4 linked regions of the Homo sapiens genome follow. The protein of the gene in region 1 interacts with the protein of each later gene in a biochemical or structural test. Each region holds a gene or a part of one and is shown in the gene's direction. Other genes may lie near its edges.

Region 1 (7,029 bases):
TTGACCTAAGTTATAGTTAGAATACTTCATTATTTTATATGATGGATGTACAATTGTTCTTATCTAATTTACCACTTTTACAGAAACAGCTGTTATACCCATTAATGGTTCACCTCGAACACCCAGGCGAGGTCAGAACAGGAGTGCACGGATAGCAAAACAACTAGAAAATGATACAAGAATTATTGAAGTTCTCTGTAAAGAACATGAATGTAATATAGATGAGGTAATTTAACTTCATGATTTCTTTAAAACAGTTAAAGTAGATTTAGATGTAAGTTCTCCCTAACAATATTTACTTCTTTTGTTATGAGCATGTTTTTTTTGTAATTAGTGCTAACTCTTTTGCAGTAGCAAAATATTTAGAAAAAATTAATTCGTTATATTTAGTTACTTTGATTTTAAAGAGAGTAGCTCCCTCACTCTGGAATCACTGAAAAGTATATAATCAAGACAATAGTTTTCAAATGTAGTTTTTTTTTTTTTTTATTCCTCTGAGGTTACTGATACCCCTAATGTTTTAAAATACCCTGCCAAGGCTGGGCATGGTGGCTCACACCTGTAATCCCAGCTCTTTGGGAGGCCGAAGTGGGAGGATTTCTTGAGGCCAGGAGGTCTAGACCAGCCTGAACAACATAGCGAGACTCTGTCTCTACAAAATACATATTTAAAAAAATGAACTGGGCATGGTGGCATGTGCCTGTAGTCCCAGCTACTTGGAAGACTGAGGCAAAAGGATTGCTTGAGCCCAGAAGTTTGAGGTTACAGTGAGACATGATTGCACCACTGCACTCCAGCCCGGGCGCCAGAGTGAGACTATGTCTCCAAAAACGAACAAACAAACCAAAAAAGCCCTGCTTAGAAAACTCTAGTGCTCTAGTGTTTTAGTTTAGTGATAAGTGATACCAACATTAAATTTCTGTTTGGCCTTCTATAATTACTCTCTTTCTAAATATTACAGCACATAATGACTGCTGGAGAATACATATGAATTCCCAGGAATTACTTGTCTTGTTCATAGAATGTGGATGTTAGAAGGAATCTTACAAATAATGTATTCAATCTCCTTTTTATAATGAGTAAACAAGCTTCCAGGGACTGATAGCTTATTATTTACAGCGTCTACATTAGACTTTGGGATATCTGGTACTATTGCTTCTTTCCTTTTTACCATACAGTTTTTCTCATAGTTTGTTTTATTGTCCACAATCACTAACACCAGATAGCAGTAAAAAATGTTACATCTTTGAAATTTCTCTGTTAACTTTGGGAAGGAGTGAGAGTGTGGTCCTAAAATCTAGTTTAAGAAGTATTAGAATGATTTATCAAGATATATCATAGTTTTTGCACTATGGCTTACTAATTTCAACAAATATACAGTTGACTCTTGAACAACAGGTTTGAATTGCATGGGTCCGTTTATACACAGATATATTTAATTACATATATTAGAAAAAATTTTGGAGATTTGCAATAATTTGAAAAAATTTGTAGCAAACCGTGTAGCCTACAAATACAGAAAAAATTAAGAAAAAGGCATGTCTTGAATGTACAAAATATATGTAGATACTAGTCTATTTTATCATTTACTATACCATAAAATACATACAAAACTGTAGCTGCAGATGCCTGCTGTTTCAGGCGGACGATTTTTGTTAACAGATGACATAAACTTACTGTAAATGTATTTTGTCTTCTTACAATTTTCCTAATATTTTCTTTTCTCTATCTTTATCATAAGAAGATGATATATTTAGTATGTATATATAGTACATATACAAAATATATGTGAATTCAATCTTTATGTTATTGGTTGGCTTCCAGTCAACAGTAGGCTGTTAGTTAAATTTTGGGTACTCAAAAGTAATCGATAGGTCTGTAGTCTCAGCTACTTGGGAGGCTGAGGTGGAAGGATGGCTTGAGCCCAAGCATTTGAAGCTGTAATGCATGTGATTGCACCTGTGAATAGCCACTACACTTCAGCCTAGGCAATATAGAGAGACCCCTTCTCTAAGAAAATAATAAAAAATAAAAAAGTTATACACAGATTTTTTACTGCATGGGGGATTGACACCTCTAACTTACCCTGCATTGTTCAAGAGTCAAGAGATTAGATTTTGTTTTAAATTTTAATGATCATGTTGTAACTTCATCTTTTTCAGGTGAAAAATGTTTATTTCAAAAATTTTATACCTTTTATGAATTCTCTTGGACTTGTAACATCTAATGGACTTCCAGAGGTAATCTGAAAGGAAATTTAATAAAATATTAATGTTTTGAGACTGTGGAGGGAGGATAATTGTCTAACTTTCTTAGATCAATTTACTGTGTATCACATTTTTTTTTTGCCCAAGAAGAATCTAGCCAAGTAGAATTGTGGTGAAACTAACTTTTGTATAGTAACAAAAAGCTTTTGAGTATATAATCAAATGTATTAGCATCATTTTGTGATTTATACTAGAAATCAATCTTTATTGAATTTTTTCCAAAATCAAAGTATAGACTTTTAAACTTCTAAATACCATTAAATAGCTAAATTTTAATAGCTAAATATAAACCATTAAATTTGCTTTGGTAAGCCTCATTAAGCGTAGGAACCATGATTAATGCCATCAACATTATTGGCATTACTACATTGTGGAACATCTCTTTTGAGGATTTTTAAGAACTGCTTAATTGAAAATACAAATGTATTTGTTGAAATGACTGTGACTATTGCAGAAGTGTTTTACCTTAGTGATATTCCATCCATCTACCTGTTTTGTTTCGCATTTTGCTACAAATGTCTTTCCAATGAGAACAGAATAACTGAGAGCTTTGCATGGTAAGACGAAATATGTGGAGAAAAGGATGCTGTGATAGATGATGAAGAACAAAACCAGTGTTTTAGAAGACATAGTATTAGTCACTATGACCAAAAGGCATGAAATAAAATAGCTAGACTGCTAGTTCTGTAACCTGAATTGATAGCTAGTTTTTGAATTAATTTATTAATTCAACAAATATTTTTTGAATGCTTAATATATGTCAGGCACGTGCTAGATACTATGGATACAGAGATTTCACTCTCAGTCACTATCCTTAAAGTGCTAGTGGGAGAGGCTGACAAAGAAATAGAGCATTACAGGAGTCTACAAGAGTGTGAAAAAAGTATTCACAGGGTTCTGTGATATCTCAAAGGAGAGCTACCTAATCCAAACTAGGGCTGATAGGTTTTGTGGAAAATAGTTTAGAGGTGATGTGATTTCAAATCTGAGTAAGCATTACAGATATAGCATTTCCAAGGGTTGGACATTGTAGATTCAAAGGTGCAGTGATGTATGATAGTATGGTCTGATCAGTGAACTCTAAGTAATTCATTAAGGTTGGGATACAGGGCAGAACAATTAAAATATGGTACTGAAGAGGCAAGAAGGGACCAAATGTTATATTAATGAGTCTTGTTACCACTTTTGGTACCAAAAACTAGGCTGTTCATAACTTTAAAATCTGTTGTAGCAATCTTTTTTTCTCCTTTAAAAGGATTATAGTTTTAATATAAATCTTAAGAGTAATTTTACTTTTTCTCCAATATTTCACATAATATAGCCAATCAATAGATGACTGGTAATTAGTGCCTCAACTAAGGTAGGACAGGAACAATGATTAAACATAAGCATGGATTACTGTTCTATCTAATACATTTATGAAGATTAATGAAAAGTTTGCATTTAATTGGATTTCTTCCTATCACTCCTTTTAAAATGCAATTTTACTTCTCTGAGGTTGGAATCACTTTGGCGTTAAAAGTCACAGTAGAAGGCATGCCAATAGTTTTCTCTTGGGCATTGGTTTTTAAAGTATAATTAAAAAATTATGGATCAGAACTGATGAAAGATTTACAAATTCTAGCAATTGAAAAAGTATCTAAGATTGGGAATAAATTGTGCAAGTGTGTTAATTGAACTGATAAATTGAGCTAATTGTCTTGCCCAAGATACTTAACTGAAGGGTACTGGAGTGAACCAAAGGGTTTAGAAAACATTGGTAGAATATGTAATCAAGAGGATTTGCAACAATGTTTGAAAAAATATTTTATATTGATAAGCATAAAAGATTAAAAGCAGGCTGGGCGCGGTGGCTCACGCCTGTAATTCTAGTACTTTGGGAGGCCGAGGCAGGTGGATCACCTGAGGTCAGGAGTTCAAGACCAGCTTGGCCAACATGGCGAAACCCCGTCTCTACTAAAAATACAAAAATTAGCCGGGCATGGTAGCAGGTACCTATAATCCCAGCTACTCGGGAGGCTGAGGCAGGAAAGTTGCTTGAACCCCGGGGGCAGAGGTGGCAGTGAGCCGAGATTGTGCCACTGCACTCCAGCCTGGGCGAAAGAGCGAAACTCCATCTCAAAAAAAAAAAAAAAAAAAAGATTAAAAGTAAAGCATATATGGGATGTTTGGAAAATCTTGGCAGTTAAACAGTTATTATAATACCTATTTTTATCTTAGGTACTGTTTTGTAGCATTGGCTATCTTTGTCTACATAAAATTCTAATAAATATTTTCTATGCACGAAATAGACCTAAAATCAAAGTTGAACAAATGTTGCAATTTTCTGTACCTCACTTTTAGATAGACCTTATTTATATTGCATGCGAACTCAGTGTATATTACAAAATTAAATGTATATTATACAAAAATTCTTTAATGAAATCTGTGCCTCTGTGTGCTGAGAGATGTAATGACATGTAAAGGATAATTGTCAGTGACTTTTTTCTTTCAAGGTTGAAAATCTTTCTAAACGATACGAAGAAATTTATCTTAAAAATAAAGATCTAGATGCAAGATTATTTTTGGATCATGATAAAACTCTTCAGACTGATTCTATAGACAGGTATTGCACATGGTATATTTGATTGATTTGCTTTAGATATAGGTTGATACTGATATAGGTAGATTATATAGTCTTTAGCTTAGTGACCTTTAGATATCATTTATAACAAATTACTTTCAAATGTCTTTATACAAAGAAAAGTTTAACAGTATTTTAAGCATATAACTTATCTACAAATATAGATTTAATGTGAATTGTGTGTCCTATAACAGTTACCTTTTTGCAGTTAACTGAATATAATTTTTTAAAATGTGCACCAAAAGATAATGGCTAAAGTAATTAGTTTCTTCAAATAGTGGTCTCTACCTTATTTCTATCCTTTCATATACTATTGCCTGCCTGGTTTATTTAAAAAAGTTTATACAAAAGTGTAGTCTCTGTTATTATCATGTAGAAACCTAAAATTGGAATGGTTGAGAGTGATTGTTAAAATTTTTGACTGATCATAAGTAAAGTTAATTTTGTGTCTTTAGCATGAACTCTTTTAATATGAAACTGAAAATATGCGTAATTTAGAAGTTAAACACAGTAAAATGTTTTAAATTTTATTTAAGTGGAAATAAAGTTTTTAGAAGGAATAATGCATTGAAAAACTTGAGTTTTAATGCTTTTTAATACTGAACAACTTGGTTATCAATACCACCAGGGAGAAAGCATCTGACTTTCACTTTTAAAAAAAGACTTAATGATTGGTATACCTCTTTGTCATAAACATAATGGAAAGAGACCCACAATTAAAAAGAGTAGTGAAAAATATTTTATTTAAGCAGCAGCTGGGTCATCTATTTTCTATCCTATCTATTATTGAGTTATCATTTTATATGATTTTATGAGACAACAGAAGCATTATACTGCTTTTTTGATGCATAAAGCACAAATTGTAAATTTTCAGTATGTGAATGACTTCACTTATTGTTATTTAGTTTTGAAACACAGAGAACACCACGAAAAAGTAACCTTGATGAAGAGGTGAATGTAATTCCTCCACACACTCCAGTTAGGTATGAATTTTCCTACTTTTAATTATATTATAATTTTGTTATTCATGGCTTTATAGTGTTTCAGATTTGTTCACGTTTCTTTATGTATTCATACATACATGTAAGAAATATATATTGAAGGCCAGGTGTGGTGGATCACACCTGTAATCCCAGCACTTTGGGAGGCCAAGGCGGGCAGATCACCTGAGGTTAGGAGTTTGAGACCGGCCTGGCCAACATGGTGAAACCCCGTCTCTACTAGAAATACAAAAATTAGCTGGGGGTGGTGGTGTGTGCCTGTAATCCCAGCTGCTCGGGAGGCTGAGGCAGGAGAATTGCTTGAACCCGGGAGGCGGAGGTTGCAGAGAGCTGAGATCGTGCCATTGCACTTCAGCCTGGGTGACAAGAGCGAAACTCCGTCTCAAAAAAAAAATGTGTATATATAATCTTTGTGTGCTGGGCATTTTACTGGTTGCTGAAGATATGGTTATTGGACCTAGTTTTGTCTGTTCTTAAAGAACATAACCTAAAATAGGAATGTGTTCCATTTCAGTAAATAAAAAAGAAAAAATTAAAGTATCACTATTTGATCTGCATGCAACCTTAAAGGATTAGAACTATTTTTTATGTCTTTTTCCTCACTCATTTCCCACATCAAAATCTGTTATCAAGGCTTGTTGAATAATCTACCTCCAAAATATTTCCTGAGTGCATCTACTTTTCTCCATTTCTGCTCTCACAACTCTTGTCCAAGACATTGTTCTCTTTCTCTTGGATTTTTTGCAGTAGCCTACTACCTGATCTTGCTCCTTCTGGTCTCATCATTGTTCCTGTCTCCTCACCATCAAAGATATTCTCCATAGAGCCCCCAGAATTTCTCCTAGAAATGTAAATCAGTTACATTCACCTTGCTGTTAAACCCACTGACTGCTTCCCATTGCAATTGGTATACAGTGCAAATTCCTTAACAATGCCTAAAAGATCTTATATGGTCTGGTTTCTGTTGCCTCTCCAACCTCATCTTGTTTTCTTTCTCACTCTGTGTTAGCCACACTTTGGCCTTCTCTGTTTCTTGGGCTTTCCAAGTTTTTTGAAAACCCTCGTACTTGATATTCCCTCTTCTTGAAATTTCCTCCTTTTCTTTCCATGGATTACCAACTGCTACTCTTCATTCAGC
Region 2 (6,830 bases), on another chromosome or scaffold:
GAAAACTTCACTGAAGAGTATAAATAAGATCTGAACAAGTAGAAAGATATATATCACTCTCATGGATGAGAAGATGGTATTACAAAGGTGTCAATCCTACCCCAGATTAATTTATAAATTCCATGCAATTCCAATAAAAATGCTTCTAAAATTCATATGGAAGAATAAATGTGCAAGAACAGCTAAAGCAAATTTTAAAAGAACAAATGCATAAGAATTCCCTTATAAGATAATAAGAAATATTATAATATCACATTCAAGATGCTCCTAAATTCATATGAAAGAATAAATGCACAAGAAGAGTTAGCGCAGTTTTTTAAAGAACAAAGACAAAATATTCCTGATCAAACAGCAAGATATAAAACTGTAAAAATGTCACAAGAATTCAAAGTCTAAAAATAGACTCATGTATTTAAGAACTTTTAGTCTATGATAAATCTGACACCAAGCAGCAGTCAGCCAGAAATCATGTGTCCATGGTGAGAAGAACTAGAGCAGGGGCTCCCGACTCCCCTGGCCAGAGACCAAGTACCAGTCCGTGGCCTGTTAGGAACCGGGCTGCAGAGGAGGTGAGCAGTGGATGAGCAAGAGAAGCTTCATGTGTATGTACTGCTGCTCCCCGTTGCTCACATTACTGTCTGAGTTCTGCCTCCTGTCAGATCAGTGGCGACATTAGATTCTCATAGGAGAATGAACCCTATTGTGAACTACACATACGAGGGATCTAGGTTGCATGCTCCTTATGAGAATCTAATGCTTGATGACCTGAGGTAGAGCTGAGGTGGTGACGCTAGTGCTGGGGAGTGGCTGCAAATACAGATTAACAATAGCAGAGAGGTTTGACTGCACAGAGACCATAATAAATCAATTGCTTGCAGACTCATATCAAAACCCTATCGGTAAGTAGCAAGTGACACTTAAGTTGCATCTGGTGGCAGGCTACATAGTGGCAAGTGAGTTGATGTACTTCAGTTGTACAGCTGCAGCTGATGGCAGGCTTTAAGTCTGAATCCGACTATTTTAGTTTGTTCCTGACCCGCCCATTATTTTATTTACCACTCCCATCCATGTCTCTTTCCTGCACCATGCACTTTCTCGGTCACAGTTTTGGTAAGCCCATAAGCTAACCCTAGCCAAAATGAGTAAAAAACAAACTTCACTGGAGAGGTTCTTTGAAAAGGGGGAAAGATCCAGTGATGAGACTGCAGAAGACTTTAAGACTGCCAACAAAAATAAAGCTGCATTTAAAAGAAAATATCAAGAGTCCTACTTAAAATACCAGTTCATTACAACAGGTGATTCACATTATCCAAGCTTGCTTTGCATAACATGTAGCAAGTGGCTATCTAACAAAGCCATGAAGCCTTCTAAACTGCTTTGTCACATGGAGACCACACACCCTGCATTAATACTAAGCCTTTGGAGTTTTTCAAAAGAAAACAATGTGAACACAAAGAATAGAAGAAATTATTGAAGGCCACCACTTCATCAGATGTGTTTGCACTGAGAGCATCATTCTTAGTGGCTAACCACATTGCTAAAGCTAAGAAGTCCTTTACTATTGATGAAGAGTTGATCCTGCCTGCTTCTAAGGACATTTGTCATGAACTTTCAGGAGAGGCTGCAGTTCAAAAGGTGGCATGTGTTCCTCTTTTGGCTAGCACCACAACTAGATGAACTGATGAAATATCAGAGGATAATGAGGCACAATTGTTAGAAAGGAACAATGCTTTTTTGTGTGTGATATATTTTGCAGGAGGATGTGAATGAGGATATGCTATATGCACTTTTGTTGCCAACCAGCACCACAGATGCAGAACTATTCAAGTCTTTGAATGATTACATATCAGGAAAGTGGAATCAGTCATTTTGCATCGGTATATGCATGGGTGGAGCAGCTGCCATGACTGGATGGCATTTTGGTTTCACTACTCAGGTCAAAGAGGTCGCTTCTGAATGTGAGTCTATGCACCATGTCATCCATAGAGAAATGATGGCTAGTCAGAAAATGTCACCTGAACTTAACAACATTTTGCAGTATGTGATTAAAATTATCAACCATATTATACATGCCCTTAACTCACATCTGTTTGTGCAGCTCTGTGAGGAGATGGATGCAGAGCACACACGTCTTCTCTTACACACAGAAGTGAGATGGCTTTCTAAAGGTAGATCACTGGCCAGAGTTTTTGAGTTAAGAGAGCTGCTTCAGAGATTTCTTTGTAGAAAAACAGTCACCATTGGCGGCACATTTCAGTGACACAGAATGGGTCACAAAAAAACTTGCTTACTTGTGTGACATATTCAACCTGCTCAGTGAACTCTGTCACTTCAGGGACGAACAACAACTGTGTTCAACTTGGCAGATAAGGTGGCTGCATTCAAAGCCAAACTGGAATCATGCGGGTGACAAATGAACACTGGGATTTCTGACATTTCAAACATTAGCAGAGATTTTGAAAGAGACTGAGCCAGGGTCTTCTTTCTCCCAGCTGGTGCATGATCACCTATCTCAGCTTTCAAAATATTTTGAGCATTACTTCCTGTATTAGTCATGGTTCTCTAGAAGCACAGAACTAATGGAATATATACATATATATATACACACACACACACACGTATATACACATACACACATACATATACACATATATATGTATATATATGTAAAGGGGAGTTCACTAAGTATTAACTCACATGATCACAAGGTCCTACAATAGGCTGTCTGCAGGCTAAGGAGAGAGGAGAGCCAGTCCGAGTTCTGAAACTGAAGAACTTGGGAATCCAATGTTCGAGGGCAGGAAGCATCCAACACAGGAGAAAGATTTAGGCTGGGAGGCTAGGCCAGTCTCTCTTTTCACATTTTTCTGCCTGCTTATATTCTAGCCAAGCTGGCAGCTGATTAGATTGTGCCCAACCAGATTAAGGGTGGGTCTGCCTTTCGCAGCCCACTGACTCAAATGTTAATCTCCTTTGGCAACACCCTCACAGACACACCAATGATCAATACTTGTATCCTTCAATCCAATCAAGTTGACACTCAGTATTAACCATCACACTTCTCATCCACAAAAGACGGAATGGATCTGTGACCCATTTGTGAATAAGCCAGGTGAATCCACTTTGTCCACGCTAGAAGAGGATCAACTGCTTGATATTGCAAATGACGGTGGCCTTAAAAGTATGTTTGAGACAACTTCAAATCTCCATACGTTCTCGATTAAAGTCAAGGCGGAACATCCTGAGATTGCCACAAAAGTACTGAAAAGCCTCCTTCCATTTTCAACATCCTATCTTTGTGAGGCAGGATTTTCCACAGTAACAGCAACCAAAATGAGATTACAGAATAGACCGGACATAAGGAACACACCTCGGGTGTCACTGTGTCTCATCACCCCCAGATGGGACCATCTAGTTGCAGGAAAACAAGCTCAGGGCTCCCATTGATTCTACATTATGGTGAGTTGTATAATTCTACATAACTATAATGTAATAATAATAGAAATAAAGTGCAGAATAAATGAAATGTGCTTGAATCCTGTAAGTATACACAGTCATATAATTCATATAAGTATATACAACTTAAAACCTGAGGCTTTTAAGTTGAAGGTAAAAACAGGTAAAACATGTTTTTAAAAAACACACAAAATAGTATTTTGCTGTCAATACATAAAGATACATGTAAATGCAAATAAAAAGAATTCAAAGAATACACACCGCATTGCTAATAGTGGAAAGATACCTCCCAGGCGAAAAGAAATGGGACCAAGTATTTCTTCACTATAACTAAAAAAAAAAAAAGTACAATATATCTGTTGTTTGTGAATTTAACTTTTTAAATGAAAACACTAAAAGGACAAAATGGATTAGTTCTTAATATGCTGATCTGTGGTTATGGATGTTGTCTGGTTTGGAGACGTGGATTTACAAGTCATCAGTACATCGGTAAATTGCCCAGGGGAAGAGGAAGGGGGGGAAGGAGCATTAAATGTTACGAAGGCCATGTAAGGTTATTTTCCGGTTTGCAGCATTACAAGCAGCAGTAGGGTTAAGTAACACAGAAACTGTTACGCTCTTGCATGCAGGGTCCCTAGATACGAAGTTCGAATCGATGGAAACGTAGCTCAAAAGGCGACGCCAACACCCCGGAGAAAACACTGAGCTACTCCAACCACAGTGGCGCGCCAAGTAGGAGGCGGTACCTGAGGACCACGCCTGCGCGCGGGGTTACGCAAGCGCGCAGCCTTTGCGCACGCGCACGAACGCACGGCCGCGCAGCATCTGTCTTGCTGGAAGCTTTTTCCTAGAGGTTGAGCGGTTTGCACAATGTCGGAAATGGCTGAGTTGTCCGAGCTGTATGAAGAGAGCAGTGACCTGCAGATGGATGTGATGCCTGGCGAGGGTGACCTTCCGCAGATGGAGGTAGGCAGCGGGAGCCGGGAGCTATCCCTGCGTCCCTCCCGCAGCGGGGCCCAACAGCTCGAGGAGGAAGGCCCAATGGAGGAGGAGGAGGCCCAGCCAATGGCGGCGCCAGAGGGGAAACGGAGCCTTGCTAACGGGCCCAACGCTGGGGAGCAGCCAGGCCAGGTGGCGGGCGCAGACTTCGAGAGCGAGGACGAGGGCGAGGAATTTGATGACTGGGAGGACGACTACGACTATCCCGAAGAGGAGCAGCTCAGTGGTGCCGGCTACAGAGTATCAGCCGCTCTTGAAGAAGCCGACAAGATGTTTCTGAGAACAAGAGAACCAGCCCTGGATGGCGGGTTTCAGATGCATTATGAGAAGACCCCGTTTGATCAGTTAGCTTTTATCGAAGAGCTTTTTTCACTGATGGTTGTCAATCGTCTGACCGAAGAACTCGGCTGTGATGAGATTATTGATAGAGAGTAGTTAGATGCTGTTAAAAGAGGAGGAAACTACTTGAGGAGGGACCCAACTTTCCGCTATCTTTTGGGTTCATTCCAAATAGTTTTGTGCCATTGAAAAACTTGACCTTCAAAAAAATTTGTTTTTCAGAATAGAACACAATAGGACAGTGACTGCACAGTTGTGAAAAAGGAAGAGAATCATTAAAGAAAAAGAAAAAAGATTTTAAGACCGTTGAAATCAATTATCAAGAACGTCCTAAAACACCTATGGCTTTGACTTTGTTATTGATCCAGATTATTTTCCTTGCATTGGGGAAAATATCTTTCATATTTGTTTGCTGTAAAGATGGTTTTGCAAGAATAAGTCATGACCAAGACAAACTGCCAATACAAAAGCCCACTGATACTAATTATATAATGAGAAAAAAATGTATCCAACTAGGACACATATCTTTTGAGTTATTTGGACTGAAAGCTTAAGAAAACTTGGAAAATTCTATTTTGTGATCTAGTCAAGCCACAGTTATCAAAGGCTACATTTTCAGTGTAAGATAAATGGATGAGTAAACTCAAATATGTATCACGTGTGCTTTGTATCTTAAGATGTGTTTCCAAGAGCATCTGAAATTTTGTTTGTACATGTATCTTGATCATTTATAAAGCCACTGTGATCTATAAATCAAGAAAATCCATTGTCATAACCATTTTTAAAAGTCAAAAATTAAGACATCCTTAATTAAAAAGTTTCAAATCTAGACACTAAATGTGTGTGAATGTACAAAGAAAACAAACCATTGCTTATGCTGTTATATACTAGAGAAATTTTGTTTTGCTTGCTGTTTTAACTTGACAGATGAAGGACTTTAGTTGAACTTCATATTGTAAGAACTGTTAATAAAAGTTGTCAAGTAAAAAGCGCTATATCTAAAAAGACTTTATGAACAGTTATTCTATCAACTTTTAAAGGTTTTAAACCTGCCCAGAAATTACCTTGGTATCTGAAGTTTCCCTCTGTCTCCTCCTCTAATTAAGCTTGTTATTTGTCATGCACCAGCATTGGAGATAATAAAATTTCTTGTTCTGTGTATTTTGTTTGGCTAATAGTATTGCATACATACTTTCTCTGTATACTACTTTCTATTGTATGTGTTAACCAGTATTAAGGGAAAATGATCCAGCTTCAGCTATCTAATTCACAAATTAATTTCTGGAAATTAAACTTTGTAAATTAAGTTTTTGCCTATAAGAATTTGCTGGTCTGGGAAAACCTGCCCTATCAATGAGTATGTTGCCGTGGTTACCTTACTAAGATGCTGAAGTTCTAGGAGAGTAATGATTACATCAGAAGGCTAGGTTCAGCAAAATAAGTGTATCAGCAGGTTTTATCATGATCAGTAAAAATGTTCCAAATGCTTCTGCTCCATTATAGCAGTAAAGAACGAATATCCAATGCAACAGGACAATTCAGAGCCTTATTTATTTTATGGTCATCCTGTCTTTTGGGGAGAGAGATCTGTAAAAGATAGGACTGTGACAAGGCTGATCAGAATTGCTCAGACACTAGCTGGGTTAGGAGGGAGAGATGGTGGAAGTAAAATGTTGGTGCTTAGACTTAATCCTACTGCCTCTTCCACTGCTTTCTCAATTAGCGTGCAGCTACGGTCAGATGAGTGTGGATAGGTAATTAATTGCATGGATGATGTAAATTAGTGTGGGTGGGGGTATGCTAGTGCACAATAAACTGGCTGGTTGTATTTACCTCCAGATCTTTATCTTTACCAGGAAAGTTTATCTTTACTAGGAAAGATAAACTCTTGGAAAAAAAAATCTGAGGTCCACAAACTAGAAGGTTGTGATTCTGTTTTTCTCTGGGACTGAGTAGGGCAAAGAGGTGGGGGTGGGAAACACTATTCCATCTGAAGGCCCATCTTGGGGAGAAAAACCTGGGCTCTGCAATTGACT
Region 3 (7,029 bases), on another chromosome or scaffold:
CACGAGGTCAGGAGATCAAGACCATCCTAGCTAACACGGTGAAACCCTGTCTCTACTAAAAATACAAAAAAAATTAGCCGGGCGTGGTGGTGGGCGTCTGTAGTCCCAGCTACTTGGAAGGCTGAGGCAGGAGAATGGCGTGAAGCCGGGAGGCGGAGCTTGCAGTGAGCCGAGATTGCGCCACTGCACTCTAGCCTGGGAGACAGAGCGAGACTCCGTCTCAAAAAAAAAAAGTAATAATTTTGTAAAGCACCTTACAGTTTACAAAGAGATTTAACAACCTCTTCCAATTCTCTCAACTTCCCTGTGTGGTCTATGTTGTCCCTGTTTAGTAAATGAGGAAATGGAGGTTCAAGAGACAGTAACTTGCCTAAGCAACAGAGCTTGAGCTGCTGTAGGTCTTCTGATACTCTGTCTCCTTTGATAATCTTGTTTGCCTAGTTAGATTGTAAATTTCTTGAAGCCTGAATCTAACCAGTTATTTCTTTTTATTCTTTATAGCACCTAGCTCCATGCTGCGCAGGAAATATAAATATTCAAACTAGATTGACTGGACTGGCCGTGGTCAAAAATAACTTGCCCTTTCTCCCTTCTGCCCTCTAGCGCCCTCACAAAGCCAATGCTGAGGAGATGACCAAGTACCACAGCGATGACTACATTAAATTCTTGCGCTCCATCCGTCCAGATAACATGTCGGAGTACAGCAAGCAGATGCAGAGATGTAAGTCCATTCTGTTCCCTCACACTCTGAAGCCGCCAGTTGCATCTCCCTTTCCACTGTAGAGGCCCATTCTGCCGTCCTCGCACCTCCCATTCAGTGGACACCTGATTTCCCCTACCTCCTAAAGGTGCCAGAGTGCTTTTTCCCCTCAAGTCGGATTTTTCATGTTTCCTGATTTGTAAACGATAGAGGTAGTACTTTTTCTGGTTATGTTCACAACACTGTCCCAAGAGTACTGTAATTATTGTAGTGGAAAAAGCACTGACCTGGGACGGGGAGACAATAGATACAGTAAAATTTAACTCTAACTCTCAGCTGAGTGGGCAAGTCACTTCCCCTCAGATTCTTCTTTTGTAAAGTGGGCTGGGCCACATGATCTCTGATTTCTGTCCAACTGTAACTGTTTTGACTTAGTGGGTATTAATTGAGAATTTAGAGGCCACTCAGGACAGATTCTAGATGGTGTAATCTTTGAGATGAGGTGATGCTGCCCCTGATCCCTTGGACTTGAACTTCAGAGCAGGTCCCATCTTGGAAGCCACGCTTAGTTTGTAGGAATCGTGGGAATTATTTTAGCTGTGAGGGGGAAAAAAAAAGTATTCAAATTTGGGACAAAACTATCATACCTGACTTCCCCCTTGTGTTATTTTAGAAATTATCTCTTAGCACCTAAGACTTCATATAGTATAACAGCACTGTCCAGAAGAAGTTTTGATTAACTTATGACAGCTTATATGGAAGTGTCAGAAAATATGCGGCACTTGTTTGTTGCTGCTGACCACAAGGTAGTCTTACTCCCAAGGAAGAAAGTTATTTATAACTATTATTACAACTAATAATAACTGTACAGTGGTATTGATGGCAGAACCACAGAGACCTTCCTTGAAGCATTAAGCTTCTTTGCTACCGACAACTCCAGGAGCTGCCAGCTGCTGTGAGTGAGGTGTTTGCTCTCTGAATTGCAGGGTCTTATTTCCCTCCAAGATGAGGCAAATTCATGCCTTTCCTGTAGATGGCTTTAGAGGTTTCCATAACCCATTTAGGCCAAGGATCAGGCTCTACTCTCAGCACAGTGGGCTCTCACTAGAGGAGCAACTTGCTATTAAAGTAAGAAAATAAGCTTTCATGTCTTAGTTTGAATCCTTGGTTTCCTAGCCCCTCTGGTGTTATTTCCCGCCCCTGCCACTTTTTTTTGAGACAGAGTTTCGCTCTTGTTGCCCAGGCTGGAGTGCAATGGGGCGATCTCTACTCACCACAACCTCCGTCTCCCGGCTTCAAGCGATTATCCTGCCTCAGCCTCCTGAGTAGCTGGGATTACAGGGATGTGCCACCACGCCCGGCTAATTTTGTATTTTTAGGTTTCTCCATGTTAGTCAGGCTGGTCTCAAACTCCCGACCTCAGGTGATATGCCAGCCTCGGCTTCCCCAAGTGCTGGGATTATAGGCCTGAGCCACTGTGCCCGACCTGTTTTCCCTCTTTAAGAGGAAGACAGGACAGGCACAGCGGTTCATGCCTGTAATCCTAGCACTTTGGGAGCCCAAGGTGGGAGGATTGCTTGAGCCCAGCCAGGAGTTTGAGACCAGCCTGGGCAACATAGTGAGACCCTCATCTCTACAAAAAAATAAAAAAATTAGCTGGGCATGGCGGTGCACACCTGTGGTCCCAGCTACTCAGGAGGTTGAGGAGGGAGGATCTTTTGAGCCTGGAAGGTCGAGGCTGCAGTGAGCCATGATTGTACTACTGCACTCCAGCCTGGGCAACAGAGCGAGACCAAAAAAAAAAAGACATTAGTGCCTATTTCATAGTCAAGGATGGGGGAATAAGTGAAGATAATATATTTAAATATATATAATATGTCTACCCTCAATGAATTGCTTTTGCTATTTTTGCTATTGCATAATCACTTTTGCTATTATGACTTACTATTTTTATTATTTACAAACTTATCAAGGCAGACAAAATGCTATGCCCTGAGGAGTGTGCAGGTTCTGCTCTGGTGCGCCAATTTTTCCGAATCCAGCATTCTAAAGTTGTACATTAAAAAATTCAGTCTGGCTGGGTGTGGTGGCTTACGCCTGTAATCCCAGCAGTTTGGGAGGCTGAGGCAAGCAGATCACCTGGGGTCGGGAGTTTGAGACCAGCCTGGCCAACATAGTGAAACCCCATCTCTACTAAAAATACAAAAATTAGCTTGGTTTGGTGGTACATGCCTGTAATTCCAGCTACTCAGGAGGCTGAGGCAGGAGAATTGCTTGAACCCAGGAGGCAGAGGTTGCAGTGAGCCAAGATCGCGCCACTGCACTCCAGCCTGGGCGACAGAGCGAGACTCCGTCTCAAAAAAAAAAAATTCAGTCTGGGTGCCTATAGTCTCAGCTACTTAGGAGGCTGAAGCAGGAAGATTTCTTGAGCCCAGGAGTTCAAGGCCAGTCTGGGTAATATAGTGAGACCTGGTCTCTAAAAAAAATTTTTCTAATTAAAATAATTAGGTCTTGGATTTTTCTGTCATCAGAAATGGGGGCAGGAAGAATAAGCCTCTCTAAGAACTTCAGAGTACCTCACTGAGTTGATTTGTAGGGTTATGGAGGGTCAGAGTAGACAGAGACTTTAGATGTCACTTAACACAGTGCTTTATAACCTGGGGTATCTACCAAGACAGTAATGAGCCCTTTTTAAAAAAAGAATTATTTTTATTTTTATTCTTGTTTTTAGAGATGGGGTCTTGCTTTGTCATCCAGGGTACAGTACAGTGGCAAGATCATAGCTCACTGCAGCCTCAAATTCCTTAATCCTTAACTTGCCCTTTTAGAATATGTACCAATATCTAACCTAGGCGCTGGACATGGTAGCATGCACCTGTAATGCCAGTGCTTTGAAGGGCAAGGCAGGAGGGATAGCTTGAGGCCAGGAGTTCAAGACCAGCCTGGGCAGCATAGTGAGACCCCCATCTCTTATTTTATCTTAAAAAAATAAAAATAAAAAATTAGTTGTGTATGGTGGCACATGCCTGTGATTCTGGCTACTCAGGAGCCTGAGGCAGGAGGATCCCTTGAGCCCAGTTCAGGGCTGCATTGAGGTATGGTCTCATTTCGCCACCACACTCCAGCCTGGGCAACATAGCAAGAACTCGTCTCAATAAAAAAAAAACACACATGGCCAGGCGTGGTGGCTCATGCCTGTAATCCCAGCACTTTGGGAGGCCGAGGTGGGCGGATCACGAGGTCAGTACATCGAGACACCATCCTGGCTAACACGGTGAAACCCCGTCTCCACTAAAAATTTACAAAAAATTAGCCGGACGTGGTGGCAGGCGCTTGTGGTCCCAGCTACTCGGGAGGCTGAGGCACCAGAATGGTGTGAACCCGACAGGCGGAGCTTGCAGTGAGCCGAGATCACGCCACTGTACTCCAGCTTGGGCGACAGAGCGAGACTCCTTCTCAAAAAGAAAAAAAAAAAAACCCACACACACACAAAAACATCCCACACACCTAATCTAGGAAGTTATGCTTATGATAAGATCGAGTAAATCAGGTTTCCTTGCTTGTGGCTGAAATGTAATAAACCCTTTCTGGTCACTTTGAGAGCCTTGACCAGAAGTTCTGACCTAATATTTAGCAAGTGAAAATGGGAACACAAATAAATGCATTTAGGGGGCTTTTGGTGAAAACATGATAAAAGGGATTGGTAAAAAATTGGGAGACATTCTCATCCATTTTACAGACATGTAAACTTTCCCAGTCACACAGCAAGGTGATGGTAGAATGCAGAATGGAACTCTAGTCCCCCAATTCTGTAGTTTTAAAAAATATAGTGTATATAAAATATTTTAGATACACAGGCCAGGCAGGGTAGCTCATGCCTGTAATCCCAGCACTTTGGGAGGCTGAGGCAGGTGGATCACTTGAGGCCAGGAGTTTGAGACCAGCCTGGCCAGCGTGGTGAAACCCTGTCTCCACCAAAAGTACAAAAATTAGCCATGTGTGGTGGTATATGCCTGTAATCCCAGCTACTCGGGAGGCTGAGGCATGAGAATTGTTTGAACCTGGAGGGCAGAGGTTGCAGTGAGCCAAGATCGCGCCACTGCACTCCAGCCTGGGCGACAGAGCAAGACTCCATCTCAAAAAAAAAAAAAAAAAAAAAAAACAGAAAAAGAAAAAAACATATTTTAGACACACACAAAAAGCATCAAAAAATAATATAATGCACTTTGGGAGGCCGAGGCGGGCAGATCACGAGGTCAGGAGATCAAGACCATCCTGGCTAACACAGTGAAACCCCATCTCTACTAAAAATACAAAAAATTAGCCGGGTGTGGTGGTGGGTGCCTGTAGTCCCAGCTACTTGGGAGGCTGAGGCAGGAGAATGGTGTGAACCCAGGAGGCGGAGCTTGCAGTGAGCTGACATTGCGCCACTGCACTCCAGGCTGGGCAACAGAGCAAGACTCTGTCTCAAAAAAAAAAAAATAATAATAATAATATAATGAACATCCATGTGTGCCCAATACCCAGCCTGAGAAAGAAAACATTATCAATACAGTTGATGCCCCCTTGGGCATCTTTCCTTGATCACATACCCTTTCTCTCCCACTCCCCCAGCCCCCCACCCCATTACCAGCACTGCCAAGGTATAAGCACTATCCTGAGGTTAGTGTTTAATCTTCCCATCTCTTTGCAATGAGCATTTGACTGCCTTCTCTGCCTACGTCTGCTTCCACCTCTCACCCAGTATTGCTTCCCTTTAGTCTAAAGCTAGTGTGAGAATGAGAAAAGCGTTTATAGCAGAAAGAGAGAAAACCCATGGAAAAGTCTTCCCTACCCTCACAGATTAGCTCACATGAGTATCTGCTCTTCCATTTGCCCCCTTTCCATCTCTAATCACATAGCTTATTGACTAGGAATAAAAGGGCTGGTCATTTGAGCTACATGTTGGTTTGGTGCCTGAAGAAAAATATTTTTTTTTTTCTCACGTCCAAAACACCCATTCCTTCCCATGGAGGCTCCATATCCCAAATAAGAGTATAAACAAAGCTTTGGAAACGCAGGCAGGCCAAACTCTGTGCAGGAGGAAGTGGCCAGAGAGGGAAATCAGTTGCCAATGGATAAACAGCCGGGGCCCAGGGACCAAAGTTCTTATTTACACAGCCTCCCAGTGTTTACCCAGGAAGTGAGGAAGAGACCCACCCGCTGCACACTCCCTCATGCAGCCATGCTTCTTCCTCAGAGCACCGGATCTTGGCACCCTCCAAGTTTAGTGCAGAACCAGAGCTGGTAACTCTTGTGGTTATTGTAGATCTTGAGCTTCAACTGTGTCTTGAGATTTTACCAGCACAATCCAAACTGAGCTCTTCTGCTCTCACCCCAGGGCTGCTCCTTCCTCTACTTTTGGAAATCTTGATAACAGTGGGTACAGTAGAAGGCTGGGCAAGAGAATAAGTATGCAGCCCCACACCTCCTGCCTCTGACTTCCTGTAGCTCATTGATGTCTCAGCAGTTACTTTTTTTTTTTTTTTCTCCTGAGATGGAGTCTCGCCCTGTCACCCAGGCTGGAATGCAGGGGTGCAATCTTGGCTCACTGCAACCTCCACGTTTTGGGTTCAAGTGATTCTCCTGCCTCAGCCTCCTGAGTAGCTGGGATTACAGGCACATGCCTGGCTAATTTTTGTATTTTTAGTAGAGACGGGGTTTCTCCATGTTGGCCAGGCTAGTCTTGAACTCGTGACCTCAAGTGATCCACCTGCCTTGGCCTCCCAAAGTGCTGGGATTACAGGTGTGAGCCACCGCGCCCGGCCAGTAGTTACCTTTTCTGTAAGAGGAGATTTGGAGCTATAAAGTTCCTCTAGGTCTGTGAGTCTACAGCCTCCAGGTGTGCTTTCCTTCCTGTTTTCATTTCATTTGCCTTATTGTTTGCATATGTTTCCACATTATGTACTACTTGGTACTTTTACCCCATTAGGCCCGAAATAACTTTACTCCACTTGTCACTGTGAATGTAGCAGTAAGACACTGGGCTACGGGAGTCAAGACACCGGGACCCTGATTCTGGTTCTGCTACTGCCTGGTTTTATAACCTTGGGCAAATCACTTAACTTCTCGGTATCTGTTTGTTCCTCCGCACAGTGGGGTTGATATCTGGCTTGTCCAGCTCATAGAGTTGTTGTGAGGATCAAATGAGGTTGTATATGTGAAAGGACTTGGAAAAGGGCCGGGATATATTTTCACAGGCTTTTAAGACAGACAGGCTGGCTGGGCACGGTGGCTTATGCCTGTAATCCCAGCACTTTGGGAGGCCGAGGCGGGCGGATCACAGGGTC
Region 4 (7,029 bases), on another chromosome or scaffold:
AAACAAACAAGAACTAGACCTGTAGTATAAGTGCCAAAGTAACACAACTAAAACTGAATAATAATAATTATGGCATGTCCCAGGGTGAAAAACCATGCAGCCATTAAAAATCTCATTGTATAAAAAAAGTCATATTGCAGAATTTTATTAGTGGCAAAATGTTGATAATGAATTGTTACATGTTTTTAAAAGAGCTACAAAATAATGTGTACAGAATAATAACCACTTTTACTTAAATATACTTATACATCCAAATATAATAAAATACGTAATTTTTAAAAGACAGACTAAAAAGACACAAAAAAAGTTATATTAACAGTGAAGTTTTCTCTGTTCTCCAAGTAGTGGAATTTTTTAGTGATTTTTCTTCTTCTCTGGATTCTTAAAACATTTTATTAGTTTCTGCATTAAGCATGCATCTATACATCTTAGCAATTTTATAATTAAGAAAAACATAGTGTGTGTTATAACACAAATAAAAACGATGTGCATGTTTTTAAATTTGTATACTGCTAATTGGCTGCTAAAGTTGTTTGAACACTGCAGCATGAACCAAACAGATTTATTCTTTATACTGTTTTAAATGAGTGACACTTAACTGTATAGAGGCTAAAGATGATGAGCCAACAGGACATTACTTTAGGTTAGTCATGCTTTTTAAAATTCAGTGCTTACAAGTTGTGTGCATGTGTTTCCAATAAAGACTTATTTGCCAAAATGTTCCTTGAACATTTTGTGCTACATTTTCACACTCCTGTTTATTCATTACAACTTATTGGACCTGCAGTGCTTCTCAAGTCTTGAAGGGCTTTTCCTCCCCAATGCAGTCTTCTCCAGGGTTTTGGGAAGCTTAGAAGGTCACCCCTGCCAGTTCAGAATATTCACTCAGGGGGATCTCAGAAATGATTCTAGATCACTGCATACCCCCTCTAAGTGCTTTGTTCACACCGACCTTGTAGCAGTGGTCATGTTTTCTTTTAGTTGTTTGTGAATCAGTCTCCCCCAGAAATCAGGACACTTATCTTGGCAATAATCATCCTAATAATTACTGTTTGTCAAGTGCTTACCATATGCCAGAAACTGTACAAGCACTTGGCATACATTACTTCATTTAGCCCCCTTAATAGTAGGAAAAGTAATCGCTACTTTCTCCACTTTATAAAAGGAAAAACTAAGGCTTTGGTTTTGAACAAGCTAAAATATAAAGACAGAACTCCGAACTCTAAAGGAAGAACCAAAACCATAAACCAGTAACCAAATATACTGTTCTCGATGAGAGGATTCAGTGGTCCGGCCAATGATAAGTGTATCCTCACAGCCCCTTCCAGCTCTGAAATCCATGGTGGTACCCAGTCATTTTTCTAACCCTTGTATTAACAAAACAGCTCCATCCTCCCTTGTATACACCATTCTTATAATATTTGGGTCAGGGGAGTAGGTCACTCTTAATTTCCACACATTTCAGAGGATTATGACATCATGGCCAATGTCTTAGTTCCTACCTTCAGACACTGTCCCTGAGTATTAAATCTTGTGTATATTTGTATTGGTCCTAAAATTAGAAAAAGATCTGATATTGGTTTATATCCTGAATGATCCGCTCCTCCATACTGGTTAATAATAACAGTAATAAGCGCTGCCATTTACTGAATATTAACTATGGTGCTAAGTGCTTTACAATGATCCTATGATAAAGTGGGCTTTGTTACTGTCCCATTTTACAGACAGGGAAACTAAGCCTTAGAGAGGTTAAATGGCTTGCCTTATTTTACGTATTCATTTGTTCATTGATTTGATAAAGGAATACATTGGAGATTTGAATCGAGGTTTTCCAGACCCTAGTTTAAATCAAGACTCTGTTAATATTCTAAAACAGTTGATTAAGACTGGGCATGGTGGCTCACACCTGTAATCCCAGCACTTTGGGAGGCTGAGGCAGGAGAATAGCTTGAGCCCAAGAGTTTGAGACCAGCCTGGGCAACATAGTGAGATCGCATCTCTGCAAAAACTAAAAACATTAGCCTAGCATGGTGGCATGCACCTGTGGTCCCAGCTACTTGGGAGGCTGAGGCAGGAGGATCTCTTGAGCCAAGGAAGTCAAGTCTGCAGGGAGCCGTGATCACAGCACTGCACTCCAGCCTGGGCAACAGAGCAAGATCCTGTTTAAAAAAAAACAAACAGTTAATCAGCACTCTCTTGCTAGTATGACTTTGGGCTAATTAGTAGCCTACATCTGTGTATCAGTTTCTTGACCTGTAAAATGGTGTAATGATATTATTTACCTAAATGTTGTGGTGTGGATTAAATTATTTACTAAGTGGACAATGCTTAGAATAGTGCTTGATATATAGTGAGTGTTTAGTACTAGGTGCTATAAAATAATAATCACCATTAATAACAATATTATTATTCACTGGATTTTAATTGTTGAAATGGCACATTAAACAATAGAGAAGCAAAAAGTGTCCCCTCACGACCTCCTCCTTCCTCTCCCCAGCATGAGCCACTGAAACCAGTTTGGCAGATATCCTTCCAGAATGTTTCCTATTCCATCAAAAACTATTTTAAAATTGTCCTTTCATTAATAAAATACAGGTTGAGAGTGAAATTTTTTGCAGTGTTCTTGAAAGTGTGGGAGTGGAAAGGCAGGAAGGGAGACAATTCACTCATTCAGCCAATACCTGTCAAATGCCTGCCGCATGCCAAGCAGCCACAAAATGCTAAGGATTCGGCGTCCAGCATAGCAAATGCTCAACTTCCGTTTTGAGTGTTTACTGATTTTCTTTTTTTAATTTTATTAGGATATGATGTTTCAGCTTCTCCGAGGTCTGGACTTTCTTCATTCACACCGAGTAGTGCATCGCGATCTAAAACCACAGAACATTCTGGTGACCAGCAGCGGACAAATAAAACTCGCTGACTTCGGCCTTGCCCGCATCTATAGTTTCCAGATGGCTCTAACCTCAGTGGTGAGTGAGAGAGTGCTGTCCTTTTATTAAACTTATTTTTCCTATTTTGAATGACAGTCTGTCCCTCTTCCATGTCTCTAATGTTAGTACTGCCCATGACTAGTTGGTGGATAGAATGTCTTTGCCCATTTTTATATGGCAGTGGGTAGGCAGAAAGCATTCTGCTTACAGCTACAGTCACATCCAGCCTGGGCTTGTTGTGGACAGGATCCATTGCAGAAATAGCCTGTTGCATCTTAGCCACTGGACAGGAATCAGTTACAAGTTTCCAAATGCTTTCTGCCATAACCACTGTTTTCAGAGCTGTATGTACAATGCCTAGGGAACACACAGCTCAAGGTCAGGGAAGAAAGAGCACGAGCAACGTTGACCTGTCTGCAGCATCATGGTTTTGAGAAACAGAGTGCCTACACAGGTTTGTTAATGCACTCATCTGAAGCTATGGTGCCAGCTGTAAAGAAGAAATCAAATTCACAGTGAACTTGGATGATGCATGAACGTAGAGCACCGCCATGCCAGGTGAAGGCTCATATAACCCTGAATAGAAAGAGCGAACCCAACGGCCCTGTTTTGGCAAAAAATAACAGTTATGATACCCTGTTTCTTTTTGCCATTCAGCTGCAAAACCATAATAGCTATTGACATTGGTTAGCTTCTATTTCTCCATATAGTTCATTATTTCTCAGATGGATTTTTGTGAAATTCTGCACCCCAAATACAAAAAGAGCAGCCTGGAAATAGGTATTAATACCCTTCTCTTTGAAAGACCTGTTTTGCATACAGTAAATTCATGCCTTACGTACAGTAAATTAAATAAATAATATATAGCAAATTAAGTCTTAAGAAAAAGAATTTTAAAAAAGAAAATATCTTTGTATATTCAAAGAAATAAAAAAAAATAATCCGTATTGTCCATCTTTAGCCTCAAAGTGGTTCTCACATCAGGGACAGCATGGCCCTGTTGTTAAGTAATGATTGGCAACATCTTTGGTCATTCTGCACAGCAAAAAATTGTTTCCCTAAATTTCAGTAATACTACAGCTGATAAGTAGAAATTCAAGAGAGGAGTTAGAAATTCTCTGAGACAGATAACTTGCCTTAGGAAAAAATCCAATTTATAAAAGTGTTCCCCACCCCCTGCCCCCAGTCAAAATAGGGGTGCTACCACCTAGACACGTAAGACCAGTTACTTTCCAAACATTATAGACTTTTCCTAGGGCATCAGAACTTTTGATGCAGAGGATTCCTTGGAAAATGTTGCCATTGTTAGAAGATAAATCCTACTCATTTCCTCTTTGCCCAGCATACACCATTGCTTTAGAGGAGAAATGGCACGAGTTGATGTTTAAAAGATAGGCCTCAGCTTTGAGCACGGTCAAGCAAGCCCTTGTATTCTTATGTAATCACACCAGAAAGGGCTGAGTCTGTGTATTTCCCCAGTGGGAAGGGTGAGGTAGGCTTTGAGTTTCCCTAGGAAGTTGTTGCGCATGTTGTTTTGGGGCCCTGGGGAGAAGCTTGAATAGGCTTTGTGATCCAGAGAGTCATCAGGGGAGTAGATGGAAGGAACTTGTCTCCTTGGGTACGTTAATTGAAGGAAGGATAAGCTGTAACTGAGATGGACGCTTTTATTTTAATCCCCCCAAATGGGCACTAATAACCATAAATAAAAACAGGAAACCCAGTTGGTTTGTGTTTGATTTTTTTTTTTTTTTTTTGCTTATTAAATTTGAGCTTGTGCGTAACATCAATTAACATTCCATTCTTGCTGAAAGTTGATATGTTCAAACAGGAAAATGTAGACAAATTATTTCATAGAGGAAAAGGAGAAAGGCAGTCATAAATACACAATTTTTCAGTATCTAGTTTATACTGCATGCTTTATATTTCCTATAGTGACATAAGTAAAACATGTTAGCAGCTGAGAAGGATTCTAAAACAAAAATCAGACTTTATTGGAAAGAGTGACGGTTGGAATTTAATGGTAATAATAAAGGGTATGTTCCTACAGGGTACTGCATTTTAAAATTTCCCCACTCTTTTGTATTTTTCTATTTAAAGGAAATACCCATTTAATATAGTAATGCGTCGATTTATATACACATGGTGACATAAAAACTTGGAATCATAGTTTTTTAGACTGAACTGGTATGTATTTTTAGTGTCTCTTGAAGAGAAAAAGACTACACTCCTCTTCCTGGAAATACACATTTTTTAGTGGGTTATGTCATACAGGAACTGAGAATCAACTTAATTTGTGGAATGTTAAAGGAATTACAAGTTAACTGATTCAAAACTGACATCTTAAAACTATGAGAAATGCTAGTATTTTACTTACCTTGCAAAGCCTGACTCCAGAGGTACCCTTTCTAGTATCCCCTTCAGAAATTAATTTCTTTTTCCTCTCTGTTTCCAGAGTAATATTTTGGGTTTTTTTGTTTGTTTTTGTTTTTGAGACAGAGTTTCACTCTGTTGCCCAGGCTGGAGGGCAGTGGCCCTATCTCAGCTCACTGCAACCTCTGCCCTCCGAGTTCAAGCGATTCTCGTGTCTCAGCCTCCCAAGTAGCTGGGATTACAGGCCACCCCAGGCTAATTTTTGTATTTTTAGTAGAGGCAGGGTTTTGCCATGTTGGCCAGGCTGGTTTTGAACTCCTGACCTCAAGTAATCCGTCCTCCTCAGCCTCCCAAAGTGCTGGGATTACAGGCATAAGCCACTGTGCCCAGCCTATAATACTGTTTTCTGTCTTGTTTTTAGTTATTTGGGAATTTTATTTATCAGGCCATAAGTTCCTCGAAGGCAGATGCTCATCTTATTCAGCCCTAACACACAGTGCCTTGTTTATTTTGATAGGCACTCAGGAAATATTTTTCAGTGAATAAATTGACAAATGCTGACTTGCAGATATAAGCAGTTGAGTCATAACAGGAATAGAGAAGGAGCTATGTTATACATTTAATGGTCTCATTTGATGTGTGTCAATATTCCTCATAGCTACCTGGTAATATTAAGCTGAAGGACTTACTCCATATACCTTAAAATGGCTGAGTCCATTTTGCACCCTAGTCCTGATTGATTTATTGGCAGCACATATCTGTGTTCAAAATCATGAAAGCTATTAATACATGCTGTAGCTCAATCTCAAGTTAGGAGTGAAAAGTTGACGCAAACCCAAGTTCACAGTCTGTGTATTGTTTTTATCATAATCCTTTCTACTGCCTCAGGAACAAATTACATATATGAATTGAACTTCCTGTCCTGAACAGAAAGCTGTAGAGATAGAGGAATGTAGCATTATTGTAATTTTACTTATTTGAAGACTTTCTTTAGCCCCTTGTGTTTTGTTATTAAAGCAAGTTTTAGAAGAGGAGTCATATTCTTCTAAGATAATTAACATCCTCTAAATGAAAGAATGGGTGAATTACTAGACAACTTTTACTATCTATGTTAATATATATATATTTACATAATAAATGATATTTCTATTTGAACAATTATAAAAGCTTGTATTATTAGCTTCTTTCTGAAAACTTCAAAATGTTCTTACATATAGAACTTTGAGGGAGCAGTTAACAGTATTTATTTTCATTTTAAGTTCATGATCACCTGACAGATCCTGAAGTACTACTTCTCCTTAATTTCTGAGCCAGTATGCTCTATGCCAGTATTCAAGACAAGGCATCTTTTGGATTAATTGAGAAATTAGTTGTTCTAGACAGGTAAGCTTTCCAGGCATCTTAAGGTATAACCCTTTATATTATGATCTTTATTATTTTATTTTTCTAGTGAAAACAAGTTTCTTGTTAAGAAACACGAGTTTCATAAGTAGAATATACTTCATATGTTGGCCTTTGGTAGAAATTAATTTAGGACAGTAGCCTGGACCATAGTTGTAGCTGTAGGTGGTATGCAACATCGGGCTGAATGACTTATCTTGTCCTCATCTGATAAATTGAGGACTAATCAAAGAGTTAAATGTCTTTTGCCTAACTTTGCCAGGCTGCCTCCAACATGACATTCTGGTGTCTTTATGGGGTATTGGGTTCTTGCTGCTCAATATAGTGT

Evidence for each region.
Region 2: the proteins of RB1 (region 1) and EID1 form a complex in vitro, tested with the Homo sapiens proteins (5 studies listed by BioGRID).
Region 3: the proteins of RB1 (region 1) and HDAC1 form a complex in vitro, tested with the Homo sapiens proteins (9 studies listed by BioGRID and IntAct).
Region 4: of the proteins of RB1 (region 1) and CDK6, one has a biochemical effect on the other in vitro, tested with the Homo sapiens proteins (9 studies listed by BioGRID and IntAct).

The regions. Positions count from the first base shown.
Region 1 is NC_000013.11:48,362,732-48,369,760, forward strand, and holds part of RB1 (retinoblastoma-associated protein), read left to right. Parts: intron 1-83; coding exon 84-226; intron 227-456; exon of another isoform or gene 457-2,162; coding exon 2,163-2,240; exon of another isoform or gene 2,241-2,245; intron 2,246-4,762; coding exon 4,763-4,872; intron 4,873-5,795; coding exon 5,796-5,873; intron 5,874-7,029. UniProt on the Homo sapiens protein: Tumor suppressor that is a key regulator of the G1/S transition of the cell cycle. The hypophosphorylated form binds transcription regulators of the E2F family, preventing transcription of E2F-responsive genes.
Region 2 is NC_000015.10:48,873,851-48,880,680, forward strand, and holds EID1 (EP300-interacting inhibitor of differentiation 1), read left to right. Parts: upstream 1-4,283; 5' UTR 4,284-4,326; coding exon 4,327-4,890; 3' UTR 4,891-6,323; downstream 6,324-6,830. UniProt on the Homo sapiens protein: Interacts with RB1 and EP300 and acts as a repressor of MYOD1 transactivation. Inhibits EP300 and CBP histone acetyltransferase activity.
Region 3 is NC_000001.11:32,316,062-32,323,090, forward strand, and holds part of HDAC1 (histone deacetylase 1), read left to right. Parts: intron 1-603; coding exon 604-721; intron 722-7,029. UniProt on the Homo sapiens protein: Histone deacetylase that catalyzes the deacetylation of lysine residues on the N-terminal part of the core histones (H2A, H2B, H3 and H4).
Region 4 is NC_000007.14:92,721,566-92,728,594, reverse strand, and holds part of CDK6 (cyclin-dependent kinase 6), read left to right. Parts: intron 1-2,801; coding exon 2,802-2,969; intron 2,970-7,029. UniProt on the Homo sapiens protein: Serine/threonine-protein kinase involved in the control of the cell cycle and differentiation; promotes G1/S transition. Phosphorylates pRB/RB1 and NPM1.